2 linked regions of the Homo sapiens genome follow. The protein of the gene in region 1 interacts with the protein of each later gene in a biochemical or structural test. Each region holds a gene or a part of one and is shown on either strand. Other genes may lie near its edges.

What was found. The genes of interacting proteins can lie anywhere in the genome.
Region 2: the proteins of FBN1 (region 1) and LOX form a complex in vitro, tested with the Homo sapiens proteins (one study listed by IntAct).

Annotation. Positions count from the first base shown.
Region 1 is NC_000015.10:48,642,644-48,650,276, reverse strand, and holds the start of FBN1 (fibrillin-1 isoform a preproprotein), read left to right. Parts: upstream 1-4,567; 5' UTR 4,568-4,702; intron 4,703-5,306; exon of another isoform or gene 5,307-5,326; 5' UTR 5,327-5,507; coding exon 5,508-5,671; intron 5,672-7,175; coding exon of another isoform or gene 7,176-7,242; exon of another isoform or gene 7,243-7,633.
Region 2 is NC_000005.10:122,068,260-122,075,259, reverse strand, and holds part of LOX (protein-lysine 6-oxidase isoform 1 preproprotein), read left to right. Parts: intron 1-1,090; coding exon 1,091-1,247; intron 1,248-4,670; coding exon 4,671-4,766; intron 4,767-5,091; coding exon 5,092-5,207; intron 5,208-7,000. UniProt on the Homo sapiens protein: Responsible for the post-translational oxidative deamination of peptidyl lysine residues in precursors to fibrous collagen and elastin. Regulator of Ras expression. May play a role in tumor suppression. Plays a role in the aortic wall architecture.

The DNA of each region.
Region 1 (7,633 bases):
TCAATGGCAGGAACTGAGGCTACATGAAAGTCTAGTTAGCTTTTTGTGAAGTCATGATTTAGTTTGCAAAGGAAGACGTAGAAGCTGATTTTAGAGTATGCTTCTTCCAAGTAAAGCTTGAAAATGCTTTATTTCAGTAAGCTCTAAACATCTTGAGAGTTCTTGAGATGATGTAATGGACATCTGGATTTTTTTTTTTTCTCCTGACAAGCATTAATGCCCTTCAATTTTTGGTGCATGACCAAAATAGTGTTTTGCCCATCTTTTATAGATGAACCCTTTTCCCATGGCATGCAATCTTGTTGGGACTATCCATCAAGATACTCCATCATCCTTTGGCCAGGATTGTGCCCAAGTTCCCTAAATAGCTACGTCAAAAGGACCCTGTCCTTTGAATTTGAACTCCAAGAGGGGTGGCAAAAAGATGAAAATGGTTGGAATTGATTTACTCACATGACATCAGCCTGAAGAGGTTCTCTGCTTACCATTATCCCAGAACTGTACTACTCCCCATTTTATCACAAAGTCAAGTTCAATGAGCCATCTCATAACCTGATAATACTTAAAATATCTTTTTTTTTGCTGAAATTTTCCATAGCTAGTTTTCTTGCTTGTAGACAAAGAACCCTTGCTGACATAGATATTTATACAGGAGGTATAAAATGATGAGAGTGGCTTGAAGCTGAAAATGCCACAAGATTTCAATTGATCATCCTGGTTAACACGGTGAAACCCCATCTCTACTAAAAATACAAAAAAATTAGCCAGGCATGGTGGCAGGTGCCTGTATTCCCAGCTACTTGGGAGGCTGAGGCAGGAGAATGACGTGAATCCCAGAGGTGGAGCTTGCAGTGAGCCGAGATCGCGCCACTGCACTCCAGCCTGGGTGACAAAGCGAGACACTGTCTCAAAAAAAAAAAAAAAAAAAAGAAAGATTTCAATTGATCCAACAACAAACAAAGTATTTGTGTTTTGTCATAGTTTTCAGGACACTAGCAAGTTTCCTTGAATAAGGAATGCCACCTTGTCTTTAAGGATCTATCATACAGCTAGGGGGAGTAAGTACAATGGCTACAGAAAAAAAATATATATTTAGGTTGACGCCAAAGTAATTGCGGTTTTGCTAGTACTTTTAAATGGCAAAAACTGCAATTACTTTTGTGCCAACCTAATAGTTCACTATAGCAACAGAAGAAATATCCCTAATGTCCAGTGCCTGACATGGCACTTGGCATATAGTAGGCATACTATAATTATGTATTAACTATTAAGTGAATGATTCAGTTAATAAGTGCAATGATGTTAGAACAAGAGAGATGGGCATGAGCTAAAACACCTACGAACAAGAAGGAATCTGAGCAAGGTTTCTTAGGGTGAATAGAATTCTTTGAAATAAGGAGATGGAAGCAAGGAATTCTAGCCCATGGACTTAATTTGCAAACAGTGCAAAACAACCTATTACGAAAAAAAAAAAAAAAGTCTGTGATAGGTTTAAGGAGAGTTGGGTCCTCAATCATCTGGCATCAAGAAAATCTTATTGCAAAGACACAGATTTTTATTATTCGTTACTGAATTTTGTCATAAGTAGCATGCTACTCTAATACATGTTGATTGCCTAGATAGCGGGAATAGTTCTTGTATATTTAAAATGTATTTACTTTTAAGTAATCAAGTTCCCCCTGCTTCCCCTTCCCCTGTAATCTTCCACCATTGTGGTCAGAACATGAGACTTATTGCTCAAAGAGGGGAGTATATGGCTTGGAGCTGCCACCCAATATGAAGGAAGAATCTTTCCTTTATTGGAGAAAGAGGCCAATGAATAAAGAGGAGGTTGCCGGGGAAAGCAAAGGCCAGGTAAAAACGTTTAATCCAAATCCCTCCCTTGGAGGTGAAACCCTGGAAGGCAGTTTGAGTTAGAAATAATAGAAATGTCCAGAAATGTTGGAAGAGGGGACTTGCAGGGCACCAGGATTTGGCCTTTACTTCCTGGGCAGAAGCCTTAGAAAAGGCTTGTGTTTGGTTGCTGCTGACCAACATGTCACTGAGTGTAAGATTCTGAGAGAAAGGGCACAGCATGTCTTGCATGCTGCTGGAGTACAAGGAAAGCATGCAGTTTCCAGAGTCCCCTGTGGGTGCAGAGCAGCCCAGAAAACTGGTGGGCAGGACAAGGCCTTTCTGGATGTCCAACAGCCCTGCTTTCTCCTAATCCATGGTCCCTCTGCTCAGATCCTTTTCCCAGTGTGAATTACCTCCTTACCCCTCCCTACCCAGGGAGCTTTAAAAAATATCCATGTGAAGAATCCACTACAGACTACTCAAATCAGAAACTCTGGGTGTTGGGGCCTGGTGTCAGTGTCAGATTTTTTTTTTTTTTTTTTTTTTTTGAGGCAGAGTTTCACTCTGTTCTGCCCAGGCTGTAGTGCAGTGGCACAATCTCCTCTCACTGCAATCTCTACCTCTCAGGTTCAAGCGATTCTAGTGCCTCAGCCTCCTGAGTAGCAAGATTTACAGGCATGCACCACCACACCTGGCTAATTTTTGTATTTTTAGTAGAGACAGGGTTTCACAATGTTGGTCGGGCTGCTATTGAACTACTGGTCTAAAGTGATCCACCCGCCTTGGTCTCCCAAAGTGCTGGGATTACAGGCCCAGGCATGAGCCACCATGCCCATCCTGGTGTCAGAATTTTTTTAAAGCCTCTTATTATTTTACTGCATAGCCAGGGTTGAGAACTGCTATCCTAAGTAGAGTCTAGTTATGTTTTAGACTTAAGTTAAATATCACTTCCTCAGGGATCCCTTTCCTGATCAGCCCTAGCCTAGGTCAAGTCCCCTTGTTATATATCCTCCAAGCAAGCACCCAGTACTTATCCTGTTTGGCGCTTAACAATTGGTCCATTATTTGTTTCAAGTCTGCCTTTCCTTGTTGACTACCTGCTGTGTGAGGGGAGACACATTTCTGCCCTTTTCACTAAATTGTTGAAGTCAGTCGTGTTCAAATTGTTGAACCTGCCTTGTTAAAATTGTTGAAGTCTAGTTCAACAATGCACTAAGTAGTACACAGTTCGTGCTCAGTAAAAACATCTTGAATGAATGATCTCCTTTACTCAGCCAGGAGTGTGTGACCAAGGCTCTCATTCATGAATCTGCTAAGAGACCTTTTGCAGGTGAGACCTTAAAGTACACCACATACATACTTACAGGACTATGGCTTTAGATCAGCTCATAGTTCCCACAGTTTTTCTGTTTCATCTTCATGTATCACAGCAGTTCAGCATGTCCATCATCACCATTACAACCCTGTGTGGTGGACACTACAAGTCCCATCTTGTATTTGGAAAGAAGTTGAATAACTTGCCCAGGTCTCTCTACCCTACTGTCTGGGCCCCTTTACAAACGGTTACAAATAAGGAAAATCCCTTTCAACAAGATACATTCCCAGGGTACCTGTTTGTGCTGAGCTTTTATTATTGGCTTGACAGCAGGCTGGTGGCTGCTTGCAGGGGATCTTCTGGGGGTCTCCAGTTACAGCAGCCAGGACCCAGTGTGCGACTTCAGGCCTTCCTAAACTGTTACAGGGTGCAGGCATCATTGGGCATTATCCATATAAGGATGCCACAAATACTATACCTTTCAAAGCCACTAAATTCACTGTGCCGCGCATATCCTGGGGAGAGGCAGCTGTGTGTGGGGGAGGGCGAGGGGACCGGGAGGGTGTAAGTAGAGTCCTCCAGATGAACCCCAGTCTTAATCTGGGCTGGGCAAGAGGACCATCCCTTCACCGCTCCCATCCTACATCCTAGGTTCCAACATTTACAGGCCCCTGGGTTGGACACCGACTTAGAGAGAGCACCCTGGATTCAGGCCTGGGTGGCTTGAATTGAGCCTCAGAAGAGCCGCGTCTGGAGTGGGCTCTCGACACCCAGGGCAAGTGGGGGCGGCAGAGCCCTCTCCTCGGTCGGCACAGCAGCCTCTGCCGCGGTCCCGGCCTGCGACGCGCCCAGTCTTAGCCTCCCGGCCTCCGGCGTCTGCTGAGTGTCCGGCGGGAGAGGCGCAGGGAGCGCGCTACCGGGAGGCGCGGGCAGCGGGGACTGGTTTTCTCTCGGGCCAGGGCCTCCGGGGCAACCGTCTCCAGCGCGCATTCTTGGTGCAGGTGGAACAGCTTTCTGCTCCGGTAGGGCTTCACCTATCGCGGGAGAGGTTAATCTCGGATCTAAACCTCGCAGCCGCAGAGCGGGCTAAAACCGCTACTCCACCTCTTCCCATTTCTCCCCTCCCCACCTCAAGACAAAAAGTCCCAGGCCGGGCAGGACCTGATCACCTCTGCCTCCTCCCACTGCGCTAATCCTGCGAGCGAGAGGCCCCGCACCGAGGCGGAGGCTGGCAAAGGGGAGTGGAAAGGGAGGATGGATGGGGCCGGGGGGTGGGGTGGTGATGAGGGCGACGAAGGAGGGGGTGTCATTTTCTTTTTCTTTCTTTTTTTAAAAAAAGTATTTCTCTCGCGAGAAACCGCTGCGCGGACGATACTTGAAGAGGTGGGGAAAGGAGGGGGCTGCGGGAGCCGCGGCAGAGACTGTGGGTGCCACAAGCGGACAGGAGCCACAGCTGGGACAGCTGCGAGCGGAGCCGAGCAGTGGCTGTAGCGGCCACGACTGGGAGCAGCCGCCGCCGCCTCCTCGGGAGTCGGAGCCGCCGCTTCTCCAGTGGGTGCAGCCGGGGTCCCGACGGGGGTCGGGCGGCCACCGGGGCTGGAGCTGCGGCCACGGAGGCTTTTGCGTTTGCGCCGCGCCGAGGGCAGGGACAGGGACTGGGGTGAGGGGCTGTCCCGGAACGTCCACAGCTGGCGCTGGCCCTCCCCTGCCTGACAGCTTCCTGGCCCGGGGCTCTTGGTGCCGGGCTCCGCGTCAGATGTTCGGGGGGCGGTGGCATCGCCCGGAGTCGGCGGGGACGGCGCGGCTGGCTTCCAGCCTGGCGGAGAGGGCAGGCTGAGGAGTGGGGCGTTCAGAGCGCGCATCGCGCGCAATTCGTGCCGCTAAAAAAAATAAACCCAGAGAGCTCGCCCGGGGCTTAGGACCGCTGGGGATATGGGTACTTTGCGCCGCGCTCTTCTGGCGGGGCCCGGGAGGCCGAGGGATCGGCCGGGGCTGCTGCCGCCGGGGGCCTGGGCTTTCCAGCCAGCTGTGGACCAAACGGTCTTCCCTTACCCAAATTAACTGCGCCACGCGCAGGCGGCGCACGGGTTGGGCTTGGGAATGGGGACCGCGAGGCTTCAGCATCCCGATGCCCTGAAAGTCTCCCCGCCTCGGGGATTTGTCTCTGTGTTGCAGCTGGCAGGGGCCGCCTGAAGTGGGAGCAGCGCCTGGAGAAGGCGGGAGGAGCCCGGCCCGGGGGACGGGCGGCGGGATAGCGGGACCCCGGCGGCGCGGTGCGCTTCAGGGCGCAGCGGCGGCCGCAGACCGAGCCCCGGGCGCGGCAAGAGGCGGCGGGAGCCGGTGGCGGCTCGGCATCATGCGTCGAGGGCGTCTGCTGGAGATCGCCCTGGGATTTACCGTGCTTTTAGCGTCCTACACGAGCCATGGGGCGGACGCCAATTTGGAGGCTGGGAACGTGAAGGAAACCAGAGCCAGTCGGGCCAAGAGAAGAGGCGGTGGAGGACACGACGCGCTTAAAGGGTAAAGGAACCGGTTCCCTCCTTTGGTGTGGGTCTCCCAAGTTTCAAGATCCAGAACAACGGGCAGGATGACTCTCCCTGTGGAAGACTCCTTGGCAAGACCTCCTGGGGGCACCTTAGAGGTGCTAGGGTTGTTTAGTCCCCACCCCGTTCGTGGTTAAACTACCTTGCCCCTACTCCCAGAGATTTCTGCCCCAAAGGAGAGGACGTGGTTAAATGGAATCTTGGGCCATTGTTGAGGCAGATTTTGGGAGGCGAGAAGAGTTCCTTGGGGAAGAAGGGGAGGAGTTGCGAGTGGGATAAGAGGAGAAGCCCGTTCCTTTCCCTGCAATATCAATTCTGGTTGTTTCTAGAGGAAAGTACTTTCCTTGGGGTCATCTTGGTAGATGCTGTATTTGAAAGGGGGCAAGGAAAGGAAGGGATTCCCATGACAGTCAGAGGAGAAATCACACAGTAGTTGACTCTTCCGTAAATTATGCTTATTAAAATTACGGATTGGGTTTTCTGGGCAATGCTTCCTTTAGATGTCTACATTGGAAGCAGAACAGGGCAAGTGGTTCTGAGAACTGGTTTTTTGAGTTGTGTGGGGCTCTCCGTTTCACTGCAGCAGTAAGGCTGCTGTGGCCGGCCTTAAGGGAGTATTTTTAACTAGTGGTGTTTGTGTTGTGTACATGCAACTGACCATTTCACTGGCTTCCCATGCCGCTGTTACAGATGTTTCAGCCGGAAAAATTTTAATTAGACTTGACTAAGGGTTGTCATTTTCCTGTATTGAAGGACAGTGGGAATACATTTCCTTTAAGAGAAATTTGTCTGCAGTTGTTTAAGTTAAAGCCTCCATGGAAACAACAGGATGGACTGTCAGTGACCCCTTTTATCTTCTTGGAGGAGCCTGTTAAATAAATTCAGACAGTATATATAGGGAGATTTTGTATTAAATTCTTACCATTCTCGCTGATGCTCTTTTCCTGAGTGGTTCTGTAGCTTTATTATATAGCTCTGGGTCACCAAGTGATGGTATCCACTTGGATATGTGGCTGTTCATTTCACTTACTCTTTTTTTGTTATGAGGTGTTATAGTCATGTATATGTAGTAAAATTTGTGTTTGTATGGCCCAGATATGAGAAGAAAAAGTAAACTCACCAGACCAGTTTTTGACTCCTAGTCTGGAGTAAGGACAAGATGATTGTATGAGCCAAGCACTTAGGCTGTGATAAAATAGCACAGAAAATAGTTATGATTAATTCGGTTCCATCTTGGCCTTCGTGGAAAATAAACCCAGAATTCCGATAATGTTGGAAGGAAGTTTGCTTATCATGGTAAACCTGACCTTGATCAGACAGCAGATGTTTATTGCCCTGTGTGCAAGGCACATGGCAAGTTCAATAAGTAGACTGAGGCTCTGATTTTCATATGTTCTCAAGAGGACCTCATTTAGTCCAGTATTTTTCCTTCAAAAATACATTTCTCCTACATAATAATATCTTAATATCTATTCTGATAGGATTGCTCCTGTATATAAAGGACGTGGGGATTTAATTCTGTGGCTGAAGATCTGCAGAGAGGTGTGAGGCCTGGTCAGACATTTGTCTCATTTCTCTGGGCTGTCACCAACTAGTGTGTTCCCTTGGGAATGTGAAAAAAGAAACTAAGCTTTACTTTGTTGCTTAACAGGATGCCACACTTTTACTCACACTTGTGCTTTTTCTCTCTGGTTTTAAATTTGTTTGTGATTATAGAGAGATACCTCTCTGTGCTCCTCACAGTATTTGATCATTAACACAGACCTTATCCTATTGTAAACTATTTATAAAGCCTTCCTAAAAACAGGGTATTAATAGAATTGTAATTATGTGTGTTCCTAATTCTCATGTTAATTATAAGATTTTATAATAAGTGATATATATATATACACACACACACACACACACACATACACGGGGGTGAAAATAATAATTTAAA
Region 2 (7,000 bases), on another chromosome or scaffold:
ACATAACCCATCTACTACAAGATCCTGTTATCTTTTGAAATGGAAAATCTGAAGCCCAGCTTATTAAAGCTGTTGATAGGATACAGCAATTGACTTCAATAAAATTTACTCCAATGCATTACAGATAGGATTTCTTTAAAAGTCCATTACAGCCAAGATCATCTAAAGTTAGTTAGCATTAAATAGCATTTCATAAAGACCACACGTTTTTTATCACAAGCATTCAGAAACCATTCTCAAAGAAAGATGTAGATGATACATCCCATCAGCTCAGAAGGACCTTCTTCCATCTTTTAAAAGACCTGTATCAAGCCCAAGGTGGTTGCCTTTTCTATCCTAAATTTAAGGATTTTTGCATAAGGTAATTCTATCATTTGCCTTAGTAACTTGCCTGGGTGTTTATTTTCAGGAAATCCTCATGTGTGGCCTTAAACTTACTTCCTGAAATCCAAGCCAGTCCTCATTGTTTTTTCCTTATGTGGGAAGATGAACAGCTCAGCACCTTCCATTTAATGAAATAACAAAAGTAGATATAAGTCCCTTAATTTCCTGATAAAATAGGAATATTTTATTTCTAAATAAAAGTGTGTACTATTTAAATAATAATGGTGGATAAAACATGCCATGAGTTCTCCCTTGCTTTTCACTAATGATTTTAAATATGTGAGAACTCAATTTTTTAAAATCTCATAGAAACCTTGAAAAAGTCATGTGCTGCTTTTCGGAATGAAACATCAGCAGTGGCAGCCAAGGGGAATACACTAGAGAACACAGGGCAAGTTTCACTTAAGCACAGATAATTTATTGTCCATTTCTATTTAATATTCAAAGACAAAATGGGGTACAATAAGAAAGCAAAATACTGAACTAAGTCTTTTGTCCTAGTAGCAAAGTTAAACCTTACAATTTTGATAGACTTATGTCCTGGGGAAAAAAAAACCCTAGCATGAATCTCTCTTTTAGAAGATAAATTTGGTCTCAATTTTAATGTGAAAACAAATTTGTGAAGCCATGGGGGAAGTCATTTAATATCTTCATTGCTTTCTCTGTATGTAACTGACCACCATCTTTTTGTTTTGTGGGACATCAGACATTACCACAGTATGGATGAGTTTAGCCACTATGACCTGCTTGATGCCAACACCCAGAGGAGAGTGGCTGAAGGCCACAAAGCAAGTTTCTGTCTTGAAGACACATCCTGTGACTATGGCTACCACAGGCGATTTGCATGTACTGCACACACACAGGTATGTTGGCACCCTGAAATCCAGAACCTCAAGCCTCAGAGAGAAACGGGTCATCTACCGTTAGTTAGCATTAAATAGCATTTCATGAAGAGCACACACATTTTTATCAAAAGGATACAGAGACTGTTCTCAAAGAAAACTGTAGATGATATACCCCATGAGTCTAGTATTTTCTTTCCTCTCACCTCTCTTTTATAAAGCATTCAATTTGAGGTCCATGTTGTTAAGATGTAAAATAATTGGGAAAAGGCAAATGATGGCTTGATGATCCAAATTACTTTTGAAGTATTTCCAGTTATGCATGTGGCCCCTATTCATGATCACAGGTCAGTGTGGGTCCTTGTTACAGTCCACAATGAAGAACAAAAATTTACTCTCTGAAAAAGTCTGAATGGTTGACAACATATGCACCCATTCTGTATTCCTTAACCGGCTTAGTAAATAACTGTAAAAAAAGATATCTCTGTTTTTTCACCTGTGAAACCATTCCTTCCTTCTGTTTTATGCTGAAAATAGAATAGTGGTTGCGGTTAGCAAATGGAGGAAAAATAAGTTTCTTTAAAAGCACTTTAAAAAGTTGCCTCTTTTAATAATGCAAATAAGAGCAGAAGGACACCATTTCTTTCTCCACACATATATATTTAAATCTACAGTATAATTGATGTCAGATGTTGTTTGGATGGATTTTTTTAAAGTAGTGCTGAACTAAGCAGTTTGCATGTTTTATCATTGGAAAATGCGTGTCAGTTAAAATCTATGTCAGTATTTCCATATGAAACCCTAATTTGTAAAAGGACATTATAATTTGACTCCCGCCCAGATCTTGGCAAGGGGTAGTGAATGTACATAACTGAGGGTATGAAGGGATCAGCAGTTGGCATCTTGGGAAGCAAATTCCAGGGCTGTGGCAGGAAGCTGTTTGGTGACCTAAATGTTACCATTGCTTTTTTCTCTGAGCTTAGAACATCATAGCAATTGGAGGGGGAAAGGTTAACTTCTACATGCCCCAGGACAGTACTTACTTAAGAAAGAGGAGATGTAACTTACCCACACATTATTCATGTGTGCATATACAGATTCCCTTTTCAGTGATCTGCAAGTCCTGTGCAAGGGACCTAGAGTTTATTTGCCCCATTTACAAAAAGAGGCACTCTGGACAGCTCACTCTGAAATATTTGAAGCTGGGATTGTAGACATTATAGCACTTCTGGTTCCCCCCCTTCTTTGGGGTGACCCCATTTCATTTTATATGGTAGCTTTCTTGTTAATCATCTTCCATATATGTTCTTTTTAACCATTATTCACCAAATCTTGCATTGAGCGATTTATATATTTGTTTTTTTCATTAGATCAATGTCTCTTTCACATGGACTTCATTTAAAGGAAAAAATAGTCTCTCAATCACCTAATGATGACTCAGATTAGTTTATTGTAATGCTGCTTAAATGTATTCAAGCATAAAACTAGGTATAACTTCTTTAGATTTATACTTTTACATATTAATAACTCTTGTGTTCTGAGACAAAAATTTACATATTAAATATATACGAAACTAAAACAGTTGAATTCACCTTATTAATTTAATGTAACAAATAGTATGTATTGCTAAAACTCAAATTGCTGATTTAGAGAGCCTCAGCTAACATTCAACATTGAATCTGTTTTTATATTTTGACTTTGCCTACATGAAATGCCTATTTGCCTTAGTAACTCGTTTTTGCTTGCTTGTGCAAATAATCAAAGCTTATACTTAAGTTCTGCCAGCTTATGAACTCGAGTGCCAATTTCAGCATTTTTAAGGCTCTTTTGTCTATTTGAAGGCAAGATAAGCACTGAAGCATTATGTAAACCCATCTTAAATGAATATCTAATCCAGTGAATCCTTTACAATGTCATGAACATTGTGGTAGTAGTAGAAGTAATAACTAGCACTTATTGAGTATGTATTATATGCCAGAATCAGAATTGTATGCTGGAATCAGACCAAAAATTCTTCATTTTATATTTACTACTCAACATACTGTTAAGTGATGTATGGATCAAGGTAGGAATCTAGATAATAACAACAGAATATGAGTCTCACTGCTGTGACACTGACCCTTCTGAGTTGGGCCTGTCTGTGCTATTGTGTGCTCTATGACAGCACAATTCTCCCCTGCTCTTCCCAAATCAAGCTACAGCTAAACCAGCATTGGTAGAGCATGCTAAGGTGATTTTACTGTCTCTTGGGTGACCAAAGTGATCTTAAACAGCAAAGCAATATTGGTTGCTAGAATTGAATGGCAGTATTGAGTTAAAATGAATCTAGCATGTACTTTGAATTTAAATTACTATTAGAATAAAAATACAAGTTAAAACTTTTTGTGAAGAACTAATGGAATCAAGAATATACCTACAGACTCCAATCTGAGGAAACTTCTCTAGACTATAACATTCTTAAAAGCAAGGATTGTATTTGTTATATTTTTCTCCTCCCAGCCTGTAGAAGGCATTCATTTACTTATTGATGTGAATATTTTAGCAAGTGGAGTGATGTGGCATTCATCAATTTAGTCATGCATTTACCCCTTCAACAAAATATGTCATATTTCAGTGACTGTATGAGAGAGAGTATAGTGGGGTAGTTAAGAACAGGGACTCTGGACCTTGATTACCTAAACTCAAAACCAGCTTAGCCACTTACTAGGCTGGATACCCTTGGGTAAGTTATTTGATCTTAGTGTGCCTTAGTTTTCTCATCTATAAAATGGAGATAATAGCCCCTCATGTAGTTGTGAAAATTGAATTTTTATACACACACACACACACACACACACACATATAAATGTTTACGATTGTTCCTGCCACATACTATTTAATAAATGTTAGTTATTCAAAGATACAACGTAAACTCTACCCTTAGGGAACTTGCAGCCTCTGGTTAGCTATATTCTTACATAGCATGTTATAATGCAGAGCAAAAAGGGATAAACACTGTAAAAGCTATCCACAATAAAAAGTATCATGGACGTTCAAAGCACAAGAAGGTAATTTCCAAAAGGGGAAACTGGGGAGGATTTCACTGAGAAGAGGACATTTGAGCTAAGATAATTATTATGTGGCCTTTATTCCTGAACTGTTAAAATTCTAGAACTTTGGTAGAGGCCTATTTTGTTCCTTCAGATTGCATTTATCTCTGGTGATATATGACACTTTTAAGAAGTGAGGTGTACTACTACTTATATTAGTCCTGTATCTTTTTTAGCTGGAGGTGCTATAAGGCTGAGTAATAAATACTTCTCAAGGGAGATGAAATATAAGTATAGTTTTATGTCAGACTCTTGTAAGTACTAACTTAAAATTTAATTTGCAAATAATAGCATATTATTTATCATAGTCTGACCACATACCATAATTTTAAATTTTTTATTTTGTTTATCTTAGGGATTGAGTCCTGGCTGTTATGATACCTATGGTGCAGACATAGACTGCCAGTGGATTGATATTACAGATGTAAAACCTGGAAACTATATCCTAAAGGTAAAGACCTTTGAAAATATATCATATATTGATATTGCAGATCAATAGGCCCTCTTCTCTGGATTCAAATGTTAAATAATCATGGTATTGGAAGCAATTATACATCCTCAAACTATTTATAAACAATCTAATCTAATCTAATCTGTCTTATTTTAAAGAACTTCAGGGGAAAATATGCAGTCTCTTTCCATAACGTCTCCAGAGTTTAACCACTTACTTAAGTTAAAATCCCTTCCCTGCTTGATTTAGCTAAGTCCTCATTAACAATTTCCTTATTGTAGCCCTATGGAAAAAGAAATACTGAGGAACTCTTTGTGTTGCCCAGGTCAGTGTAAACCCCAGCTACCTGGTTCCTGAATCTGACTATACCAACAATGTTGTGCGCTGTGACATTCGCTACACAGGACATCATGCGTATGCCTCAGGCTGCACAATTTCACCGTAAGTGTTATTTGCTTAGCTAAGTAATTGTTGTCACAAATAATTTTTGTTCATGCCAAACATTATACATAGAATGTATCTGTTTCTGCTACTACAGCAGCTTTCTTGTAAGCAGACCAAAGGCAGAAAATGGTATGCAGTCTGATTTTATTTTTTTAAATAATGGAAGGCAAAGGAGAATGTACTAAGGTTTTTAGTTTTCAGGAGAAGCTTAGTTTTCAGGAGAAGACATAAACAGACCACAGTGTTTACCCAGAAGGCATTTGTGAAGGCCCAATATATCAAATTGCTCAATATGTAGAGTGGGTGAGCTTGTAGAAGCCCCAGTAGTTGCTTCTTGGCCCCTTCCTCGCAGTCCCTGAAAGAATTGCTAGGGTTCTTCAAAGTACATTTTGAAAACCACTGCCATAAAGTAAGCAACTGAAGAGTTCAGCCCCCTCTGGTCTGTACAAATCAAGATGTCATATATTTGAGTTCTAGAACCATTGATACTAGGAAAATACTCTGCAAAAGATTGAGGTGTGTGGAGGTTTCTTCATAATATTCCTACTCCTGAGACTCTTCTTAGAATGAAATACTGGAAGATATCTATTCACAGGGAGGTGCTCTGATGAAAATAATGAAAAAAGGTTGGGTAGGTTTGACTGCATGCCTGTCTGTCCTGCCCCATCTCCTTAAGCACTACCTCCCCAAGTGTTGCTGGGTGCTAGATTATAATTACATATGCCACTTGAGTTATGCCTTCCCAACAATGAGAATACTATTTCCATTGGAATGATACTCAACACTCATCAGCTTTGCTTTGTCACTGGAGAACCACCAGTGCCACTGGATCATACAGACAGGTATAGCAGAGCTATACTAGAATCTCATAATTAATAGAAATTTCTGCCTGATACAAAAACCCAGGACTTTCTACATAAAGAAGCAGAGACTGTGCTTTACAAGTGTTGTCACAACATTAGAGATAGATGAAGCCTGTGATAGCAAAAGGATAGCACTGAAAAAACAGAGTCACATACATTCTTCTGAACATGCCCACAGCACAGAAAACCTGGCAGGTTTTATGGCCCATATTGTGTGGAGTTGGTTATAGTAGAACCAACCCCCGACCCCCACCGCCAGAACACCATTATAATTTAAGCTAAAATAATTTGCACTTAAATAAACAGATTAGTTTTTTCTTAATTTTTATAATTCCTTAATTTATTCATCCATTCTCCATTTATTTATTCATTTGCACTCTCATTTTTGTACTGTTTGTTGATGCCCTGAGCTAGATATTACTGAATAATGCAAACATAAATAGGACTACTAATCTCTATACTGCTGTAGCCTTATTACACTATTTTCAGTTAATTACTTATGAATTTCTTTGTTTAATGTCTGTCTCCTGCTCTACTCAGTGATGGCTGTGATTTAGTCTCTTGTCCACTGTTGTATACCCATTGTCAGGTACAGGTCTGCCACCTTGCAGCCTCTCACTCACTGCTTAATGAATTTCTTTCTCAAATAATTTGAGTAAAGGCATTTTGAGTAGGGGAAGTGAGAGAATTACACATATAACTGTAATAGAGATACAATATGAGAAGTTTCATGAGGGATAAAATAAAATGTGGTGAGATCAGAAGGACCTTTGCTATAAGTTTGGTAACTCCCAACTATGTCTTACTGACTTCCCACTAGAAATAGGTCTGGAGAGGTCTGTTGCATAGAATGTCTCTTGCTTTTAATCAGTAGAATCCATTGAATTGGGTATTGCTAGATATTTAGAAGAAATAAAAATTGTTGTA